2 linked regions of the Homo sapiens genome follow. The protein of the gene in region 1 purifies or fractionates together with the protein of each later gene. This does not show direct contact. Each region holds a gene or a part of one and is shown on either strand. Other genes may lie near its edges.

The links.
Region 2: the proteins of ZNF175 (region 1) and SNX16 purify together in Homo sapiens (affinity purification with mass spectrometry; one large-scale study listed by BioGRID and IntAct). This does not show direct contact.

The regions. Positions count from the first base shown.
Region 1 is NC_000019.10:51,588,283-51,590,646, reverse strand, and holds part of ZNF175 (zinc finger protein 175), read right to left. Parts: coding exon 2,180-2,364; 3' UTR 1-2,179.
Region 2 is NC_000008.11:81,839,386-81,843,560, reverse strand, and holds the start of SNX16 (sorting nexin-16), read left to right. Parts: upstream 1-1,375; 5' UTR 1,376-1,439; exon of another isoform or gene 1,440-2,023; intron 2,024-3,117; exon of another isoform or gene 3,118-3,363; intron 3,364-3,478; 5' UTR 3,479-3,574; coding exon 3,575-3,949; intron 3,950-4,175. UniProt on the Homo sapiens protein: May be involved in several stages of intracellular trafficking. Plays a role in protein transport from early to late endosomes. Plays a role in protein transport to the lysosome. Promotes degradation of EGFR after EGF signaling.

The DNA.
Region 1 (2,364 bases):
ATTTGCTCTCCAGGGCCCAGCACAGGCTCCTGCATGTGCAGTCACCTTGTTTTAGACACAGCCTGAGGTCTGTGCTGGTTCCTGACCAGCTGTGTGGGCCCCTATCAACCTTGAAGGGGTATGGAGACTAAAGCCATGGGTGCCCATCTCTAACACCCTTCTGGAAAAGACTTCCAGCTGACAGAAATCTCCCACCACAGTCCCACACCCAGCACAAGGGAACCAGGCAGGCTCAGGGATACGAGGCCCGCTAAAATTCATCAGCACTTGGTCTGTCCATGCAGTTCCAAGGGTTTAACACACACACACTTCTCACACCAAATGCATGGGGGTAGGGTACTATCATCATCTCCCTTTTGTAGATGAGAAAACCAGAATAGATGAGACCAAATAACTTGCTCAGCAGATGCAGAGGGTAGAGAGTGGAGCCAGGAATCAAATGCAGGAACCTGGCTCCTGGGCCTGTGCACTTAAAAGATTATGCTGGTCTGCTTCTCGGAAGTATTGATAACAGTTCCCTCTCCGTTTTTTAGCAAAAAATGTGTGTGGGGAGGAAATAAGTAATCAAAACTGTGGGAATGGCTAAATAAATTATGGCAGGTCAACCTCATAGAATACACGTGTGTACAATCCATCATGGATTGTAGAATGAAAAAAATACCATCCACACACGTAAGAGATCTGAGTTTTATAAATCAATGAAAGAGTACTTACACAGGTATATGATGATGAACATAGTAATATGTGTGTATGTGTGTGTGTTTGTGTGTGTATCATGTGCTGGCAAACATTTTCTGTAAAGAGCCAGAGAGTAGATATTTTCAGTTTCCAGCTTGGGGGCTATTTGATCTCCGCCAAAACTACTCAATTCTGCCAGTGCAGCACAAAAGAAGCCCAGACAATACATGTCCAAATGAACATGGCTGTGTTCCAATAAAACTTTATTTTAAAAAAACAGTTGGGAGGCCATATTTGGCCAATGGCCACAGTTTGTTGACTCCTGGTGTAAAAATATGAACGAGACTAATGGTTGGCACTAATTATGGAGAGGCTCACTATAGATGGTGGAGATGGAAAGGGGGGGCAAGCTGAGCTAATCCTAAAAGAAGAGAAAATCTGTAATATAAAGATCAGTAAACATTATAGAATCTCATTTATGCATTTACCAAAAATGCACATTCATGTGTATGTATAATAAAGGAGTTAATCATTGTTGATACAACCTCATTATATAAATATTCAATAGGGAATAATTTTTATAAAAACAATTAGATTAGATTCTCTTAAAAAATAACTCATCTGCTTACATCTCCTGCTATGCAGTGAATTCTGCAGCAAACCCCACTGCACTGAGGGCATACATACATACATACATACGCATACATACACATATGCTGACCAGACCATATACATATGTCTGCATATGCATATATATACATACATAGATACAGAAATATACGTACATACAGGTTGGGTATTCCTAATCTGAAAACCCAAAATCTGAAACTTTTTGAACTCTAACATGACGCTCAAAGGAAATGCTAATTGGAGCATTTAATCTTGGATTTTCAGATTAGGGATGCTCAACCAATAAATATAATGCAAATATTCCAAAATCTGTAAGTATCTGAAATCCAAAATGCTTCTGATCCCAGGCATTTTGGAGAAGGGATACTCAACCTGTATATAATAATATGCTTATATATTATATATATGCTTATATACATAAGGCGCACACACACACATAAAATATTGTCCTATCATGACTGTGTTGGCACTTTAAAAATATTGATATCCCACAATAAACAGGGTTATCATTGATATAATTTCCCACATATTTTACTATAAATAATCGAGTAACAACCTGTCTTGTACCATTCTTTACAGAAAGGCTTTTCTCAATGCGTTAGTCAGGGTTTCTTCCCGGGGAGAAAATTTATAATCCTTAATGAGGCCAGTACTCAGAAGGACATTTCTGCTTACTCTTTTCTCTGTAATTGCCCTCACTAAAATAAAGCATGACTTTTTTATCATGTGTTCACACATGCAGTGCATCCCTAGAGTTTTTCTGAAGCATGAATTCAATAACATATAATTAGACCTGATTCTGAGAAGATTTTCTCTTCTTCAAGAAACTCGGAGTATATTTCATTTATGAATATGCTGATGCACTAGGAATTCATTGCTTGGTAAAGCCTTTCACAGAATAACTGCATTTGTAAGATTTGTCTCTGGTATGAGTTGTTTGGTGTTTATTGAAGTTTGACCTGTTGTTGAAGGCCTTTCCACATTCAGAACACACATAAGGTCTTTCTCCCGTGTGAATTCGCTGATGCACCTTGAGTTGTGGTTTCTTACTGAACG
Region 2 (4,175 bases), on another chromosome or scaffold:
AGGAGTACAACTTTGTAACTTAACTTTAGCCTCTGATTGGTTGCAGGCTACTCCTTAATTTACAGAGGGTGTAAACCAAGTAACCAATGGGAAATCTCTAGCGGATATTTAAACTCCAGAAAATCCTGTAACCAGGGCTCTTGAGCCACTGGCTGGAGGCCATTCCCACTCTGTGGAGTGTACAGTCATTTCAATCTCTGCTTTCCTTGCTTCATTCTTTCCTTGCTTTCTTTGTGCGTTTTGTCCAATTCTTTGTTAAAAAAACCAAGAACCTGGATGACTTGTAGTCAAGACCCTCCATGGGTAACATTGGGACTATACAAAAGCCTTAGAAATCGTGGAATGATTTTTCAACCACATTATCTGATTCTAATGATGAACAGACCTGTAGACCGGTCTGAATCTTGGGATTTGCCTATCAAAAAACTCGGCTTTCCCTACTGCACAGGTCTTCAGAAGCGCATGTCTAACAAGGCTAATATTCCATCATCGGGATCAAATTGCTCACCGGATAGTAAAAAGACACTACAGAATTTCAGGGGTTCTCTGCCAATGAGAACTTCTGAATTATGTAGAACGGATCAGCTACTAAGCAGTGTTCTATCTTCCTACTCTTCTAATCGATTGTCATCCCTTAAAGCGCTGCTAATTCTAGAAAACAATCTATAACCTGTTAGAATCAGCGCAAGCTGGTGATGACTACAAGTCCCATGATGCAAAGTATGAGCACGGACCAATGTTGGTCGCAGTTCCTTCTGGGAATTGTAGTCTTCTCCTGTTTGGCAAACTAGGTATTGTAGCCTCCATTTCTCAGAAGTTCAGTTGGAAAACTAAAGATAGTGCAGAGAATGTCGATTTCCTGCCACAAGATTACATTTATCTTCGCTACCTGAGCGCCCAGCCGATCAACTCCAGTCGCTCCTCCGGTGGGCGGGCGCCCATGCCGTGACATCACTTCCGGCAGAGATGTGTGTGTGACGCTCTCTCTCTCTCTCTCTCGCTCTCGCTCTCTCCCTCGCTCGTTTTCTTTCTCTTTCTCTCTCTCTCTCTCTCTCTCTCTCTCTCTCTCTCTCTCTCTCTCTCTCTCTCTCTGTCTCTCGCTCTTGCCCTCTCTCTCTCTCTTTCTCTCTGTCTCTGTCTCTCTCTCTCTCTCTCTCTCTCTCTCTCTCTCTCTCTCCCTCCCTCCCTCCCTCCCTCCCTCTCTCTCTCTCTCTCTCCCCCCCCCCCCCCCCCCGCCCAGTTCGGCCCCTCCTTCCACACAGCAGGGATCTTGGGCCCGGGCAGAGACTGGCTGAGGCGGGGAGCAGCTGCTTTTGGGGCGGGGGTGTCACGTGAGGCTTCTCGCTGCTGAGGGAGGAGGCGAAAAGCTGCGGTTAAGGAGAGTCCGGTTTAACCGTCACCGGGAAGCGCGCTCGTTCGGGATCGCCGAGGGGGCTGAGGTAAAGACTGGGTCATTACCTCAGGACAGGCGGTCGCTGTCCCGGGTTCTCGTACGGGTGACACCTGCAACCTTGATGTCTGGCGGGCGGCAAGGGGCTCCGCGGGAGAGTGGAGAGGCGCCGCAGGAAGCCCAGCCACCTTCAGGCCACCGCCGACCCCACTGTGCGTCTGGGAGGCGCTGGGCGCGCACCGGTCAGCGGAGGCGGGAGAGTCTGTGATCCCAGGGAGCTGCGGGTCTCGCCGCCTGCAGTGCGGAAGACCCGTGACCGGCGCAGACCCCGGCCTTACCTTCCGAGGGTCGAACTGTGCCTGGTATTTGCCTCTTTCCTCCCGCCCACGGGGTTGCTCAGAGTCGGGCCACCTCACCTGAGGTTTTCCAGAGTGAGAATGAACTGAGCGTCCTGGGAGCAACTCCGCATCAGGGTAGAGGCGAAGACGCTCCTAATGAGCACAGCACGTTTTTTTGTTTGTTTGTTTGCTTGTTTTGTTTTTTTAACGCTTGGGTAGCGCTCACATCTTCGGACGTCAGTGGTTGTGTTGATATGTATTGATATGCGACCTCCCCCCAGCCAGGCGGCCTCAGGTAGTAGAGTGGCAAAGGCCAGGTAGATCCCTCGGACCTTGAGAAGGTTGAGATTTCAGACTTACTTGTTTTTGGGGAGGCCGTCAGGCGGAACCGAGGAGCGGTGAATCAGCAGCTAAAGTTTCATGAATCTTTGATAATGGGGAAATGTTGCCGAGAGCCACTTGAGTTAAAAATCTTTTTTTTTTTTTTTTTTGAGACGGAGTTTTCCTCTTGTAGCCCAGGCTGGAGTGCAATGGCACGATCTCGGCAAACTGCAACCTCCGCCTCCCGGGTTCAAGCGATTCTCCTGCCTCAGCCTCCCAAGTAGCTGGGATTATAGGCCTGCGCCACCATGCCCGGCTAATTTTTGTATTTTTAGTAGAGACGGGGTTTCACCATGTTGGCCAGGCTAGCCTCGAACTCCTGACCTCAGGCGATCCACCCGCTTCATCCTCCCAAAGTGCTGGGATTACAGGCGTGAGCCACAGCGCCCAGCCCAGAGTTAAAAATCTTATTTCAGCATCTTTCCAAGTCCAGGTGACTCATTTCTTACCTTTCCCACCAGTAGAGTTTCGTATGAAAAGTTGGGCAGTTATTGTTGTGTGTAGTCTTGTCATTTTGTTGGTCTGTAGTTGTTACAGTTTCTTATGAGTTTATTATTTAACAAAGTAATAGTAAACCATTTCTTCTTTGTGTTATGATACTATTCTGACACAAGATATACTGGTCCGTTTGATAACAGATTCTTGAGTGTAAGTTATAAAGATTTAAATACCCTCAGTTTATCGTAGAGCAGAATTAGTGATGACCTGTAAGCTGTGAAGAACGGTTACAATTTTCACTATTTAATTTTGTTGCATATAAGTTCAGTGTTCACTGGGTTTTATTTGAGTAACTTGACCAAGTGTGTATTTTTAATCCTGGGTTCTATAGAATTATACTATGTAGCATCAAAGCATCTGGTTCATTGTTACTACTCTGTGTAAATCTTTATAGTTTCACTAATTAAATTGAAAGGTAATGTGAATAGATTTCCTCCCTTTCTGATTAAATCCAGAGGTAATGTAAATAGTTTTCTTCCTTTTCTTTTTTCTCTCTTGTACTGAATGTAGTACTGTCAAGATGATAAGCATGGAATAAAGCTTCAGAAGGGTCTTTACCAATCTTTCTCCTACCAACTTTTACATACATGAAATCAGGTTAAAATGAACTTTACAGAAATACTTCACAAGGGAATAAAGTAGAGGAAAAAGGGATAACATGTAACATGGAGTCAAGGAAAAAGAGTGTGAAGTAGTTTTGCTCTCTCTATCTTGCAAATAGGAGTCCTTAAAGACAACTGGGAGAAGGGGTTTGAGGTATGTTTTCATTCCAAATAAAATAATAGTGTCATAAAATTGAAAAGAATACTTTTCTTTTGAATCCTGCTGCACATTAAAGACTAACCTTTTAATATGTCCTTTTCATTTTTAGATAGTGAATTCCTAAGAAGAAAATAATGGATTGCATATTAGTTGTTCTCTAAGTGGACTCAACAGTGTGCAAGCTTGTTGGAAAAGCCAAAAGAAGATGGCAACTCCTTATGTCCCAGTTCCTATGCCCATAGGAAACTCTGCTTCCAGTTTTACAACAAACAGAAATCAAAGAAGTTCTTCTTTTGGCAGTGTCTCAACAAGCTCAAATTCTTCTAAGGGCCAGTTAGAAGACTCAAATATGGGTAATTTTAAACAGACAAGTGTTCCTGATCAAATGGATAATACTTCATCTGTCTGTAGCAGTCCCCTCATTAGGACTAAATTTACAGGTACAGCTTCTTCCATTGAGTATTCTACTAGACCAAGAGACACTGAAGAACAAAATCCGGAAACAGTGAATTGGGAAGATAGACCATCTACACCTACTATACTGGGTTATGAAGTGATGGAAGAAAGAGCTAAATTTACTGTAAGTATTGACTTCTGCTGTATAACACTACAAAGTGAAAGATTGGCTAATCTCTGTGTTCAAACCAGTGTTAAATTAATGTAAACTTGTACTTATAATTTCTTGAATATGAAATTCTAATGGTTTTTACACCACTGAATTCTATCATGTTGTAGTAAACTTTTGCTTTACCTTAATAAATTTTCACAAACCAGACACACCTATGTAACTATTAATAGCACATAAA